Homo sapiens: one gene and its partners. The gene in region 3 interacts genetically with the main gene of each other region. Each region holds a gene or a part of one and is shown on either strand. Other genes may lie near its edges.

Region 1 (4,116 bases), on a different chromosome or scaffold from region 3:
CTCAGGGGTGGTGCCTTAGGTGATGGCTCAGCTGGCACTGCCTCCTGGGGTGCCATCATCTTCAGGTGCAGCTCCTGGTGCTCCAGGAGCTGGCTGGGTGACATCAGCAGTTGACCACACTCCAGGCACTGGTACTGGCTCTCCTGCACAAGGGTCTGATAGAGGCCCGTGCCTGAAGCTGTGTCTGTGGCCACAGTGACTCCGGGATCAGCCACGCCCACCAGCTCAAAGTGCTGCTGGGGCACGTGGGAGTTTTGGTGCATAAGCACCTCTTCCAGTGATCCATACAGCTGGTTGCACTCAGAGCAGACATAGCGGTGCTCAATGTACAGGACTGTCTCCTCTGATTCCTCAGTCATGGCGGCAGCAAGGCCCTGGGCTGGAAGAGGAGACAGTGGGGACAAACCAGTTAGGTCACCGATTCCTCAGCTCTTCCCTTCATCACTCTCCACTCCTAATACCTTAGATCTACACCCCCTTAAGTTCTTCCTTCGATTTTTAAAATTCTGCCTCCCTCCCAATAATCCTTCCTCCCCTCAGCATAACAAACACCAAACACAAATCTCCCAGGCAGTCCCTTCCCCAGGAATTTACCCACAGTCTCACCTCTGTATCAACTTGCATCAAACTCCACCCACCAGATCCTTGTAACCTGTCCAGTCCCCTCATCTCCCACACCTCACAGTGGGCCCCACAGTTCCGCCCAGCACATGGGAACCTCCACTCAGACCTCCTTCCACTGACTCCTTTTCTTACCAACTCACCTCACCCCATTCCTCTCCAAGGTACCCAACTGAAACCCCATATAGGCCTTCCCCACCTGTTTCTCCCAGCCACACCCCTCCCATGGCCTCTGCTCCTTCTCCCAGGTTCTCAGACTTCTTTTTACACTCAGACCACTCAAACTGCCCAATGCCCCACCACTCCACTTTCAGCACTGTACAAGGTGCCACCCCTCCCCTTTACACGCAACCCCTGCTACCCACCAACTCTTCCTCAGGTGCCCAGATTCCTCACGTCAAACTATATCCCTTCCCCCCAGTCAAATTTTCTCACACTGGCCTAACCCATCTCCACACCCAGACTTTGCCCACCTTAACCACTTCATGATACGCAGCCCTGTTTAATTACTTAACCTCCTCTACAAATCAAGGCCCTCTCCTACAACCCTAACCCCCTATCCAGAATACCCAGACCCATTTTCACAAAAGCCTACTCCTCCCCGCTTCGGACCTAGGCCCTTCCACCACCCTAGCTCCTGTCTCCAGGGTATCTATCCACTCTTTACATTCATCACCTCTTCTTTGTACCAAGACCAAATCGACAATTCTAATCCCCTCTGAGATACCCAGATCCCCTCTTCCCATTGATTTAAACCCTTCCTGTTCATACACAGCCACTCATTCAGGGATGCCCATACCCTCATTTTATATCAACCTATGCCTCTCTTGCAAACAGAGCCCCCCCTCAAATCCATCTCAGGAATATCCAGATCCTCCTCCACATTATTAACCTAATCTTTTTTAATTTGCTAGAAGACCCAACCCACCCTAACCCATTCTAGGGATGCTCAGACCCTCCTCTTCGTAGCAACATAACTCCTCTTCTTTGTGTAAAGATCCACACACCCATCTTTCACAATGGCTTAAGCTCCTTTTACACACACCCCTCGTGCTGCCCAAACCCCCTTTAGGGATACCCGGACCTCCTATTCTCATACAGAACCTCCATCACCACCTTAATCCAGCACAGACCCCTCTTCCTCACACTCAAGCCCCTCTCACCAGCCTCCTATTCTGGGGGTACTCAGACCCCCCAGCGTCTTAGCAACCTCTCAGTCTCATTCCAGGAATTCCCAGGCACCCCTCACTTTAGCACACAGATCTCTCCCACCCTACTTCCTCCCCTTCCAATAACCAAATCCCATCTTCACCTTGGCCTAATTACCTGTACTTAAAAAAGACTACCTTCCCCAGCTCATTCTAGGGACACCCAGACACCCTTTTAAAATACACTTAATCCTTCTTTGTACAAAGACTCCTTTCCACGCATTCCAAGGGTACCCAACCTCCTGACACATTGGTTTAAGGCCTCTTCACATTAATTTAACCCCATCCATTACAACTGGACCCCTCCTTAGCTCTAAACCGTTCCCTTGGGGATATCGATTTCCTAATGTCTTCACACCAAAACCCCTCTCACCGCCCCAATTCTTTCCAGGAAGAACTAGATATTTTTCCCCTGCATTAACTTAATTATCTTTCTCACGCCCTAAGCCCCTAACTGGGCACCCACGTGCCGTCTAACCGGCCCAGCCCCTTCGTCCTGGACTTGCCACACCACCAAGTCCTTTACCCCAAACCCTGGGGAGCCGCGGAGCCCTCTTGGGACAGCTCTGAGGCCTCCCCTTCCCGCCCAGGTGCCCCACCAAAGCCTCAGCCCGAGCCCCGCCCCTCCTCACTCAGCCCCGCACGCGACTCCAGGCCCCTTCCCCACCCGCCGCTCCAGCCCGGCCCCCGCCCGGCTGCCCGCGCGCCGGGTCGGCCGTTGGTGCCGCTCCGCCCTAACTGCCCGGCGCGCACCCCCTCAGGCCCTCAGTGCGCAGGCGACCTGGCAAGAGGAGGCCGCGGCGGCAGGGAGCGCAGCCCGGCCGGCCTCTGCGCGCCCGCTCGCGCTCACCTGCTTCCGCCGTCTCGCACGCCCCGGGCCCGGGCCACGGCTCCCCTTGCACGGCCACCCTAACGCTGCGCCCGCTCTAGCTCTCGCCGTCGCCTCTCGCCTGCTCCGTAGCCTCGCTCTCGCCCCCAGCTACCCTCAGCAACGCCCCTCCCACCTTCCTCCTCGGCCGCCGCACGGACGGCCGGACGCAACCAATCATTGCCCGCTCGGGCCCTGCCGTTCGGCCAATCGACGTTCATGTCTCTGAGGCTTGGGCCAATAGTGAGGAGCGTCGAGATTCCCCGCAGCGCCCAACCAATCCTTTAGCGTCGTTCCCTCACCGGTCAGCCCTCGGGTGGATAGTGCCCGCCCCTTTAATCCTCCTTAGAGGATGCTCCTCCTCCTCCTCGACTCCGCCTCCGACGGCTCCAGAGGGGAACTCTGAGCGGAGGGCGGCGCGATGACGTTAGGCGGCGGAGCGCGGCCGCGGGCGCCATTTTGGGGACGCCGTGAGGGAGTCAGCGTTGGGGACAGGGAGAGGGAGGAAAAGAGCCTGGGAAATTGAGGCACGCGGCACCTTGAGGGCTGGAGCGGGGGAATGGAGGCACGGGAACCTTTGTGGTTTCCCCGAGGGTCAGAGGGAGAAAGTGAAACCACTTAGCGCGATGGGGAGAGGGCAAACTGCATGCAGCACCAGTCACATGGAGAGAGAAAAGGGAAACCAAGGTTCCAGACTCACTTTATTAAAAGGAGGGGAATGAAGGCAACAGGAAGAAACAGAGAAAAGACCGAGGGGACTTTTGGGAGGTGGAGAGAGGAGAAATGTCATAGGGGAAGCAAGGAGAGCGAGGATATGGAGAAAAAGAAGCAGGGACAATTTCATTGGAAGAAATAGGGAGTGTGGTGGGTAGAGGACCTGAAGGACAATCGGGGTGAGAGCCTGAAGGAAGTGAGCCGGTAACGGGCGGACTCCACTCCACCTCCTTCCGGGGTGACTCTGACCCTTACACCTCGAGATTGGGGCCCCATGTGTCCAAGGGGCTCTGGCCATTCCTACTCACCTCGTTCCTGCGCCCCTCAGGGCCTTGGGAGGGAGTTGCCCCAGTACTGTTAGAAACGTTTCCAGGCTGGGCGTGGTGGCTCACGCCTGCAATCCCAACATTTTGGGACGCTGAGGCGGGTTCACTTGAAGTCAGGCATTCGAGACCCACCTGGCCAACCTGGTGAAACTACCATCTTTACTAAAAATACAAAACATTAGCTGGGCGTGGTGGCTCGTGCCTGTAACCCCAGCAACTCGGGAGGCTGAGGCTCGAGATTTGATTGCACCCAGGAGGCCGAGGTTGCAGTGAGCCGAGATCACGCCACTGCACTCCCGCCTGGGCGACAGAGCGAGACTCCATCTGAAAGAAGAAAAGAAACATTTCCAGACCTACTCCTTGAACCCAAACACAGAGG
Region 2 (4,129 bases), on a different chromosome or scaffold from region 3:
CCGAAGCCTGTGCAGATCAGACAGTGCAGATCAGACAAGGCCTTTAGACACCAAGGAGCTCTGGGACGCGAGAACCAGTAGTCGGGGTGATCTAAGAGGGGAAGCTCCGGGTTCCGCGGAAGCTGAGTTTCCTTCACTCAGCGCGTGTCTTCTGGGGTCTCCTGTGTTCAGCGAATGAAGCCACGGGCACAAGGACGGACGAGACCCATCAGGTCCAGAGCGCACCCGTGGAGGAAGCTGGGCGAACCCCGACTGTCCTATGGAGGATAGTCCTATGGACCAGACGAAGCCCCTGCCCCAAGGAGTGCCCGGGTGTAACCGCAAGTTAAGGAGCCCTGGGGAGGTGACACAGGCACCCTCATTCCTTTTGTTCAGTAGGAGTCTCTGAGGCCTCCCCAGCACCATGCCGCGTGGGTGAGGCCGAGGACACAGAGAAATATCAGGCAAGGCTCCTGCCCCCTTAGGGTGGCCCTGACAACGGATCATAACCTCCCAGGGAGCTGATGGGGTGTGACAGGCACACCATAGGCTGGAGGCACAGGTGGAGGGCAGGGAAGAGGACCGGCAAATCTATAGAATCCTAAAGGGAGCCAAGAGAAGCCACATGCAAATCTCCCTCCCTCCAAACAATTCTCCCTTAGAGGGCATCCGCGCTCCCCTGGGGTGGCAGTCAGCGAGAAGTTTCCGTGTAGGTTCTCCCCAGGCTTAAACAGTTTAAGAGTTTTATTTCAAGAAAACCCTGGGGAGGGCGAACTGCAAGAGGGCTGCCAGGATTAGCCGAGGGATTCCGAATGAAGACGGAGTATTTCCGAACATACACACCTCTCCCAAGAGCGTTTCCGGAGGGTTCCGAAAATACCCGAGCGGGCCTCGGCGCCCTCATTGGCCATCACCGCGAGGGCTTACGAAGACCGGAAATATCCAAAGGTGCCGGGGCTAGGCTTATATAGTTCACGCATTCACCAGTTCATTCATAAAACAAATGTTTGTTGAGCGCCCATCATATGCCAATCACAGTGACAAGTGCTGGGTGAGCAATACTGGAGAGATAACGCTGAGGTATGGGTCCCAGGACCTCTCGAATTGGAGCCACTCGGAAATCCAGCGGTAGAGTTTCGAAAACTTCCGAACGGTTCCCGGAATACGCTCTCGGCCCTCTAACCGAAGAGTTCCGAATATTCCCGAGCGTTGAGCGAATTTTCGGCGGAAGCAGCCGAACATCATCGAGCCGCCTCGGAGGTGGGGACCGACAACTCCTGTCGTGCCCGCCCGGAGAGGAAGCGGAAATGCGTGTACGGTATTAAAGGCGTCGCCTCGCCCCTCGCCTTCCTCTTTCCGTCTCAGGTCGCCGCTGCGAAGGGAGGTGAGCGTTCGTCTTCCTCGCGTGGTCGCCATCTCCGGCCCGCCGCGCACTCCCTCTCAGTCCTCTGCCTGCCTTCTCCCCTTGCGCCTCAAGGGTCATTGGCGGACCCCAACCCCTCCCCGTGAAGTCGTTGTGAATTTTCAAGTTATTTTCCCCTCACTCTCATTCGCCGCAGCTAGTCTCGGCTGCCTGAATTCGGTCCCGCCGCCTTAGGTCACTCAGTCCCGCCTGACAAGAGTTCTAGGTCGCTGTCTGCCCTCAGGGGTCTCCCATTCACCCAAGTTCCCAGTCGCTCTCTTCCTCTGCTGTCCGAGCGTGGCCCGTGGCCTAACGCTGCTTTAGTTCTCTGTGTCTGACGCTTTCCCTGTGCCCGTTTCCCCGCAGCCGCCGCCATGTCTGCGCATCTGCAATGGATGGTCGTGCGGAACTGCTCCAGTTTCCTGATCAAGAGGAATAAGCAGACCTACAGCACTGTAAGTGGGGCCCGGATGCGTGGCTCCTGCGGGAGGAGGGTCCTGAGTCTCTTGACTCTGGGTCAGAGGGCGGGACCTTCGCATGTCTCCGGGTCCCTTATTCACGATGCCTTGTGCCGCCTCCTTCCCAGGAGCCCAATAACTTGAAGGCCCGCAATTCCTTCCGCTACAACGGACTGATTCACCGCAAGACTGTGGGCGTGGAGCCGGCAGCCGACGGCAAAGGTGTCGTGGTGGTCATTAAGCGGAGATCCGGTGAGTTTTGTCTGGTTTGGGCCAGAGAGCGGCCCCTTTCCCGGGTCTGGGAGCTGTGATTTTTTACTGTCAGGCAGGAAGAGCGGTAACTGCCATCGCGGCGGGCATCCCTGGCGCCAGGGTGTTGGTCTGGGTACCGGCTTCCCTCTCGGCCGACTTGTCAGCTCTGTGAGCCGCGCGCGTCTGAGCCCGTGTCCTCACCTGTAAAGTGGAGAAATGAAAAAGGACCTGAACTTCCTCGGTGGTTGTTGAGAGTTAAGGCACGGGGTTGATGTTTTCAGATGAAATTCTCAAAGCAAGTCAGGGTGGGGATGGATGGTTTCATCCCACAGGTGGGAAGATTGAGGCACAACAGGGGAGGGGCCCTCGCTACCACACTTAGGAGGGGACAGGCTGGGTTGGTTGCAGCCATTTGATTCCCATTTTGCCTGTGTAGGTTAGAGAAGAGGTCTTGGGGACCCCACTCCATACATTGTGCTGTCAGGTGCAGGCCTTTTTGGGGATTCCCTGAATGTTCGTGTGAGTCGGGGGTCTCTAATGGAGGAGTCCAGCTTCACATGTGTTCTTGACAGGGCTGTATTTTCTTTTTAGAGTGAGTTTTTCTCAGGTCCTTGATTGGAACTGCCTCAGAGCCAAGGGTCCTTTTACTCAGTGGCAGCAACAAACGCAGTCTGTTGGCTAGTGATCCTCCTGTCTCAGGGACACGTAGTCCAGGGAGCAGCCAATTGCTTGGCACTTGGGGACCCCGTTCTGGGGAGTCCTGAAAGCTTTCACCTCTTGGATTGCCGAATACATGGGTGGCCCTTCCTAGACTAAGGGACTGGCCTGAGTGAGGCTGGGCCTCTCAGCCAAGCTGATGTTGAACCACTGCTGTGGGGATGGGCCTGGGGTTCCTGGGAAGCTGTTCATACCCATTGCCAGGAGCGTGGGCTCTGGCTGGACCTGGATCAGATCCTAACTGAAGCGGCAGCTTTCTGGCATGAGAAAGGAGTGTTTTCATGGTGGACAGAATTGGGCTATGAGTGTGGCAGAAGCTGTGTCCTCAGTACTCCGTGATGACGAGTGAGCCTCTGTGAAATGGACAGGTGGGAAAACAGCTACCTGCTGGCCTGCCCAGGCACCCGCCACGGGCCCACGCTGCTCAGCTTCTCAATGTGAGACTGTCCACACCTGCGAGGTGTGCTAAAGGTGCAGGTTAGGTGGACTGACCCCAGGACCTCCCTGACCCCCAACCAGGCCAGCGGAAGCCTGCCACCTCCTATGTGCGGACCACCATCAACAAGAATGCTCGCGCCACGCTCAGCAGCATCAGACACATGATCCGCAAGAACAAGTACCGCCCCGACCTGCGCATGGTGAGCTGGGGTTTGGGGATCAGGCTTGGGGAGACTGGCCAGTGCTGTGGGGAAGGGCCTCCCACTACTGGTTGCAATATGGGCTGGAGAGGGATGGATTCTTGCTTTCAGCCTACTCCCCACACCCAGCATTGGCCTAGGGGGCGGCTTGTGGAGTGTATGGGCTGAGCCTTGCTCTGCTCCCCCGCCCCCAGGCAGCCATCCGCAGGGCCAGCGCCATCCTGCGCAGCCAGAAGCCTGTGATGGTGAAGAGGAAGCGGACCCGCCCCACCAAGAGCTCCTGAGCCCCCTGCCCCCAGAGCAATAAAGTCAGCTGGCTTTCTCACCTGCCTCGACTGGGCCTCCCTTTTTGAAACGCTCTGGGGAGCTCTGGCCCTGTGTGTTGTCATTCAGGCCATGTCATCAAAACTCTGCATGTCACCTTGTCCATCTGGAGGTGATGTCAATGGCTGGCCATGCAGGAGGGGTGGGGTAGCTGCCTTGTCCCTGGTGAGGGCAAGGGTCACTGTCTTCACAGAAAAAGTTTGCTGACTTGTGATTGAGACCTACTGTCCCATTGTGAGGTGGCCTGAAGAATCCCAGCTGGGGCAGTGGCTTCCATTCAGAAGAAGAAAGGCCTTTTCTAGCCCAGAAGGGTGCAGGCTGAGGGCTGGGCCCTGGGCCCTGGTGCTGTAGCACGGTTT
Region 3 (3,500 bases):
AGGCAAGAATTTTATTTTCCTTTAAAATGAATCCTGTATTCTTCCCCTAGAGGACTGCATATTTAACAAATGAAACCCAGGAACTAGGCCAGAATTTGGTCTGTGAGAGTAGCATCCTCTCTAATATATGGCTTGACAGGGAACAAGAGTTGCTTAGTAACTGAAAAAAAAAAAAATGCCAAAGTACATAAGGTACATAGTTTGTAGTTGTTTTTAACTACCCCCATCAGGGTACTAATTAATACATTCTTCCATTCATTATATAATGCACTTACTCTTACTAAACATTTATCCACCAAAAACTGCATGCTCACTGCCAAAGAAACCACTCTGCAATTCTATTAACATCCATTTTTTAAAAAGTTTAGTTTCCTTTCACTTTGTAGGATAACTCTACTTCTACTTCTTTCTTTCTTTCTTATACTACATTAAAACCCTGGTTAAGAAAGTGATCCTTAAATTTGCTAAGTGATTTCTATCATGGTAAACTCTGGCAAAGCTGAAGGCCAGTAACTCATTAAGATTTGATTCCTGAATATCAGCTACTGACAGATTAGGTCACATGCCTGTTAAGTCTGAATCCAAAACTGGGTTTATATGAAGATAAACTCTTGAAATAAAATGTATACCTCATAATTATAGGGAATAGTTTCATTTTTAATATAGCACTTACATGTTACCATTCAGTTGAATTTTGGGGAAAATAAAACAAAGATAATACCTTTGATTCCACTTGGTTTAGCATATGCGGAATGTCAGAAGTTGTTGACTTGGGTATACCAAGTGTATCAAACATAGCTTGAACTTCCTGATAAACTTCACTATTTTTATCTAATTGAGAATTTTTATGTTTCTTGTTCTGTAATATCTGTGAAGCTTGAAGTTCTGTACTTAAAAATACTACAATAAAGAGAAAATAAATAATGTTAATACATGTATAAGAATCTCTTGAAATATTTCACTGAAATTATTCACTTAAAACAAGTATCAATTAATACCAATAATGCCAACTTACAAAGACCCAAAGAACAACAGTTGTAGAACACTGTACACTTATAAACGAAGTGATTCCCTAGTCCATAGCAAGTGTTACGTTTTTTTAAATGAAATGAGAAAAAACAACTAACTAAAGCTATATAAAATAGACACCCTATTAAATGCATTTACACTGTAAATGCCACTTTAAATGGTTGATTCTTTTCACACCGGAGGAGCCCTAGCAGCTCCTACTGGAGTTAAGCAGGCAAAGATACAGGCCCCCAGAAAACAGCAGCGTAACTTTCATCTACTTTACCTAGAGAGGTTTAACCTAAGACTTAGTTTGAAACAGATGAATGGGTACAAAAAAAAAAAGGGCACTACAAGCAAAAAACTAAAATGAATTTATTTAATACTACCAGGAAAAAGAGAAATGGTTTATTTTATTCTCTTCGATTTCACACTAGCTGGTTTCAGTTCAATTTTAATTAACATATTAAATGATCTAGATTGCTATTTCAGTAAGTACATGTCTACCAAGGACCTGTTCTGAGCCAGGAACGGTGTGAACAATGGGGATGCCAAGTCAAGGAAGATATGATGCCTACCCTCAAAGAGTATAAAATCCAGTAGTTGAGACCCACCACCAAATCAACAATTTAAGAACAGACAAGAATGTGTAAGACTCTGATAAATTATTCTCTGTCTTATATGTACAGAGCACACAGGTCAGGGGAGAACATATAGCTCTAACTGATATATAAGCACATAGAGCAATTTGAGTCAGGATAAATCACCCCAAACTGTTTACAAGTCCCTTTACTTTCACCGTTTCATCTAATCCTTTCAATAGCCATATTTAAGAAAATTACTCAAAAATCTTAAATGATTATAGTCTTGTTTTAAACAGACTCTTCACTACGGTAGGTAAGACTTTGTTTTTGGCTGGGAGTGGTGGCTCACACCTATAATCCCAGCACTTTGGGAAGCTGAAGCAGGCAGATTACCCGAGGTCAGAAGCTTAAGACCAGCTTGGCCAACATGGTGAAACCCCGACTCTACTAAAAGTACAAAAATTAGCCAGGCATGGCAGCATGCGCCTGTAGTCCCAGCTACTAGGGAGGCTGAGGCAGGAGAATTGCTTGAACCCAGAGGCGAAGGTTGCACTGAATCGAGATCGTGCCATTGCACTCCAGCCTGGGTGACAGATCAAGATTCCATCTCAAAAAATACATAAATAAATACTTTGTTTTTATTTGTTTAGTTAAAATTAGACACAAACGCCACAATTTAATATAGCAGTTTTAACTTCAGCTGAGCAAAAATACATCTGAAAAACAATTTAAAAGTACAGGTGCCAGGGTCCCATCCTCTGAGATTCTGAACAGTAGATCTACAAGTAGGAGTTGGGCATCTGTGTGTGGTTTGTTTTAGACCCAGTATGATTGCCAAGGTCAGGCAAGATTGAGGGTCACTGGTTTAAAGACTTTTCCATGCAGTCTACACATGACAGTTTAAAGAGTCAAGTACCAAAATATTAAGATCAATTATTAAACTTTAAGACCAATATTAAACTTTCCTTATGAGGACTATACTAAGGTCCTTCTGACTTAAAAACTTCATTAAGACCAGCTATGGTGGCTCAGGCCTGTAATCCCAGTATTTTGGGAGGCTAAGGTAGGAGGACAGCTTGGGCCCAGGAGTTTAAGACCTACCTGGGCAACACAGACCCATCTTTACAAAATATTTTTTAAAAATTTGCTAGGCATGGTGGTGTACGCCTGTAGTCCCAGTTATGCAGGCTGAGATGAGAGGATCGCTTGAGCTCCAGAGTTTGAGGGGCTACAATCGCACCATCACACTCCAGCCTGGGCAACACAGTGAGACCCCATCTCATAATAAAAACTTGATTAAACTTGATTAAAACAGATTGCCAGTTTTTCAAAAATTTATATTTTAGACAGAACCTTGGCTGAAGTCTACTTTTGCTCTATGGAAACATGCTTTCTCCATGTAATAGTACAAACAAGGGTTTAGCATTTACGATGCTAATCCATGCAGATAGTAAGCAGTAGAGGGAAAATTAAGCCTTCTTCCTTTTGCAGATCCTTAGATTCCCCCTTCCCAGAGGCAATCACCATTAATTTCTTGGGTATCCTTTTAGGCATGTGTGTGTGTATGTATTCAAGATACCTAGTAGCCATCTGTGTGCGTTTGTTCCTTTTATACAAACAAGAACATGCTATACATGTCCTGTATATTTATTTTGTATTTACCAACATATCTTAGAGATCATTCCACATCAGCACATTTGATTTATCTGCATTCTTCCTATTACCTATCTAGTGACATCACTGCATTAATGTACCACTTCTATTTATCTATATTTATGGACACTCAGGTTTCTGGTCTTTTTATTACTACAATGTCATAATGAACATGGTTTTCATTTATCTTTGTACACTTGGGGAAATAGATATATATTCATAGACAAACAATTGCCAAGTCAAAAGAATTGCCAA
Region 4 (3,500 bases), on a different chromosome or scaffold from region 3:
GTTGCTTCCCAGAAAGGCCTTTTTGCTCTGAATTCTCTGGAATGCTTTCTTTGACCAAGATTCTTATAAAAATAAGAGATTTAGAGCAATTTTCTTGGATGGCTGGTATGAGCCAGTTGGCTTAGTTGTAGGGATTTAAACAAGATAAGGGTTACTTACTTTTCACATTTAATGAGAAGTCTGGTGATTCCAGCTCCTACTGAGACAGGGTGGCCACACGTTCCAGGGTGTGACTCACTGAGGCCCCAGACCTGCCCTGCAAGGAAAACCTGGCTCTGCCCTGGTGTCCTGGCCTCCCTGGGCATATGTGGGGGAGAATTCCTAATGGTATTGGTTACAGGCTCCTATGCGAGACCACTCATCTGTGTAGGAGAAAGGAAAAAGATGGGGGAAAGAAGAGCAGCAGGGAGAGGAGAAGCCTCTGGATGATACTCTAACCCCCTGCCATCCAACACCTGAACATCAGTCTCTTCATCCAGTGCTCTCAGCTGGCCCAGCCCCCAGCCTGGGGTCAGATGAGAGCTTCCTGCAAATGCAGATCTCTTTCCTGTGGCTCCTTCTCAATTACAGACAGCTCCTCCACAAGGTGCACTCTGGCCTTGTGCTCCCTCCCCAAACCAGCCCAGCCCTCCCAGCCTGCATCATCGTGGTCCTGTAGGGGCTAGAGGTTCTCACACCCATCGTGGTCTGGCAGAGGCTGGTGGTTCTCACACCCATCGTGGTCCGGCAGGGGCTTAGTGGTTCTTATACCCATCGTGGTTCAGGAGGGGCTAGTGGTTCTCACACCCATCGTGGTCTGGCTGGGGCTAGTGGTTCTCATGTCCACCGCGTGCTTTCCTGCTCCTCCAGGTGGCTGAGGACATCCCCCCTTCGGTCTGAATGACTTCCATCCAGTCATCTGATATACACATTGGACCACCCAATAGCATCCTAGTGTCATGTTGGATGGTGAAGAAAATGCCACAGTTACTGCTTTCAGGGCCTCACAACCTTGGGCATAGCTTTTTGGAGGAAGGCCCCACTTCCCAGGCATCCCTCCCAGACCTGGTCAGAGGCCCCTGCTCTTTGCTTCCATGTTGCCCACACTCACTGTGCTCTTCACACCGGCTCAAAATGATCTGCTTACGGGGTTGTGTCACCACCAGATCAAGCGTCCTGGAGAGGAGGAAACATATTTAACCTGCACAGAATTTGGGACAGAGAACCTCTAGTGTTTGTTCAATAAATATATGAATGGATAGAGGGACAGGTTGGGTGGTGGATAGATGGATGAACCCACACCTTTGAAGTGTATTTGGCTGTTTGAGAGGTTAGAATATGTTCTCAATTTCCAGGCAAAATGAAAATGGAGAAAATATAATGACATTAAGGCATTTTATTCATCCTCCCCATCTGCCACTGGGTTAAAGATACTAAATAAACAAGGAACTATCTTTTGCCTGGAGGAACTTTAAAAACACCTGCAGTTTTCAAAAGGTGCAGTGTGTGCCTCCCACAGCATGACCTACCATCATTGGAAAGCAGTTTGTAGTCAATCAAAGGTGGTCTGGAGAAACAAAGTTTTCAGGGATACATTGTTTTTATAATTTTTCACCACATGATTTTTCTTCTCTCCAATGTAGTGGTCAGTTTTCTCTTGCAGTCGTCAGCCTGAACATAACATCCTTGGGATTACGCTCCCTCAAGGAGATAAGTGATGGAGATGTGATAATTTCAGGAAACAAAAATTTGTGCTATGCAAATACAATAAACTGGAAAAAACTGTTTGGGACCTCCGGTCAGAAAACCAAAATTATAAGCAACAGAGGTGAAAACAGCTGCAGTAAGTCACCGCTTTCTGTTTAGTTTATGGAGTTGGTTCTAATGGGTCCTTTATTTGTATTTAGAATATTGAAGGGCTATTCCCATTTAAATTACTTTTTTCAGTTCCTTAAGAAGCAAATTAAAATCTTAAGATTCCTAACTGTGAAATTACCATGTGAATTCCATTAAAACTTTTTCCAGATCATTACCATTCAATGGGATGAATTTACCCTGAGGTTTAGGCTACCAATTATTTGTAATGTAAGTAACTAAATTTAGTATTAGTTATATTACCTTTTAGTTGTAGGTCACTCTCTGCTCATTTCAGCCTGTAAAGACTACAGCTACACACATACACACACAGAGGAATGGAATGAGCACTTTACATCAACACTTCCTGTTCTGGCTCTAGAGCCTCAGCTTTTGAAGCTGGTGAGAGCCTGGCCTGTGCTGGGCCTTGGCCACGGGCAGCGTCAGCTTTGAGTCAAGTGCTGGTCTGGCCTCCCTAGCTTTGAGCCTCTGTCAATTCCCTTAATCTGTTTAGGCTTTGGCTTCCTCATCCATAGAATGGAGATATGAATGATTCCTACGCCGTAGTGCTTTGAGAGAATTCAGTGAAATTCCTGTGTGTAAAACCCTTCCATGGTGCCTAGCACACAGCACACAGCCAATGGCCCAATGGCTCCTATCAGCTGTGGGATTTGTCATCAGAACACCACCAGCTCTGCTCCAGGCTGCCCTGGGTACCATCAAAACACACCCTGTGCCCAGCAGCACCTGCTCCTCTGCACACCTGGTTCCTTCAGCAGGGGCAGTGGCCGTGGGAGCACAGAAAACATGGAGTCCCATCTGGTTTAATTGATGCCATTGCCAAAGGGGAGGACTCACGGCACCCCCTCTCGGGTGCCAGGGTGCCTGGCTCCCACCAGGAGGAAGACCTGTCCTCCACTGTCAGGCACATTTCAGTCTTCCCAGCAGCCAGCACAACTACTTTGTCCTTCCAGTCACGGTCGGCCTCTGGGAAGCCCAGTCTGTGTCCTCCTCCTTCAGGGGTAGCCAGCATGTCTGTGTCACCCAAGGTCATGGAGCACAGGGCCCCTCCCGGGAAGGTGCCGTCTCCTCCGGCCCCTCGGGTCCCTGCTCTGTCACTGACTGCTGTGACCCACTCTGTCTCCGCAGAGGCCACAGGCCAGGTCTGCCATGCCTTGTGCTCCCCCGAGGGCTGCTGGGGCCCGGAGCCCAGGGACTGCGTCTCTTGCCGGAATGTCAGCCGAGGCAGGGAATGCGTGGACAAGTGCAACCTTCTGGAGGGGTAGGAGGTTATTTCTTTAATCCCCTTGCGTTGATCAAAAATAAGGCTCCAGGTTGTTGTTATAGCTTTACAGGCATTCTGTTTGATTTTCTCTTCCTTTTATTCTTTGCCCTTGGCTTTTGGAGGTTTTGGGTTTTCTGTGGGGAGACGGGAAGTTGTTTGATTGCGTTATTTTTGGCAAATTTAAGCACAATAGGAAATAAGCAAGTATTATTGCCTAATATAATCCAATAATTTATAGAATCTCTTTTCCTGGAAGTATCTTAAATTTTTCTAAGCTACAAAAAGTTCCTAAGACAAATGAGACAGTCATCAATGGTTCATCTAGCCAACACCGTGGCCATTTGGGCTTTTCTTTGTAGTGCCCGATTCCTGGTGTGTGAAA

What was found.
Region 1: changes in FAM98B (region 3) and ZNF574 together harm fitness less than expected from each alone (positive genetic interaction), as found in Homo sapiens cells (one large-scale study listed by BioGRID).
Region 2: changes in FAM98B (region 3) and RPL28 together harm fitness less than expected from each alone (positive genetic interaction), as found in Homo sapiens cells (one large-scale study listed by BioGRID).
Region 4: changes in FAM98B (region 3) and EGFR together harm fitness more than expected from each alone (negative genetic interaction), as found in Homo sapiens cells (one large-scale study listed by BioGRID).

What each region holds. Positions count from the first base shown.
Region 1 is NC_000019.10:42,074,850-42,078,965, reverse strand, and holds the start of ZNF574 (zinc finger protein 574), read right to left. Parts: upstream 2,801-4,116; 5' UTR 2,680-2,800; intron 2,483-2,679; exon of another isoform or gene 2,462-2,482; intron 2,421-2,461; exon of another isoform or gene 2,356-2,420; intron 2,338-2,355; exon of another isoform or gene 607-2,337; intron 380-606; coding exon of another isoform or gene 360-379; coding exon 1-359. UniProt on the Homo sapiens protein: May be involved in transcriptional regulation.
Region 2 is NC_000019.10:55,384,603-55,388,731, forward strand, and holds the start of RPL28 (large ribosomal subunit protein eL28), read left to right. Parts: upstream 1-1,329; 5' UTR 1,330-1,363; intron 1,364-1,747; 5' UTR 1,748-1,755; coding exon 1,756-1,836; intron 1,837-1,967; coding exon 1,968-2,091; coding exon of another isoform or gene 2,092-2,150; exon of another isoform or gene 2,151-2,438; intron 2,439-2,682; coding exon of another isoform or gene 2,683-2,687; exon of another isoform or gene 2,688-3,117; intron 3,118-3,327; coding exon 3,328-3,446; coding exon of another isoform or gene 3,447-3,614; exon of another isoform or gene 3,615-3,640; coding exon 3,641-3,730; 3' UTR 3,731-4,129. UniProt on the Homo sapiens protein: Component of the large ribosomal subunit. The ribosome is a large ribonucleoprotein complex responsible for the synthesis of proteins in the cell.
Region 3 is NC_000015.10:38,467,627-38,471,126, reverse strand, and holds part of FAM98B (protein FAM98B), read right to left. Parts: intron 901-3,500; coding exon 722-900; intron 1-721. UniProt on the Homo sapiens protein: Positively stimulates PRMT1-induced protein arginine dimethylated arginine methylation.
Region 4 is NC_000007.14:55,158,517-55,162,016, forward strand, and holds part of EGFR (epidermal growth factor receptor isoform a precursor), read left to right. Parts: intron 1-1,622; coding exon 1,623-1,822; intron 1,823-2,982; coding exon 2,983-3,115; intron 3,116-3,500. UniProt on the Homo sapiens protein: Receptor tyrosine kinase binding ligands of the EGF family and activating several signaling cascades to convert extracellular cues into appropriate cellular responses.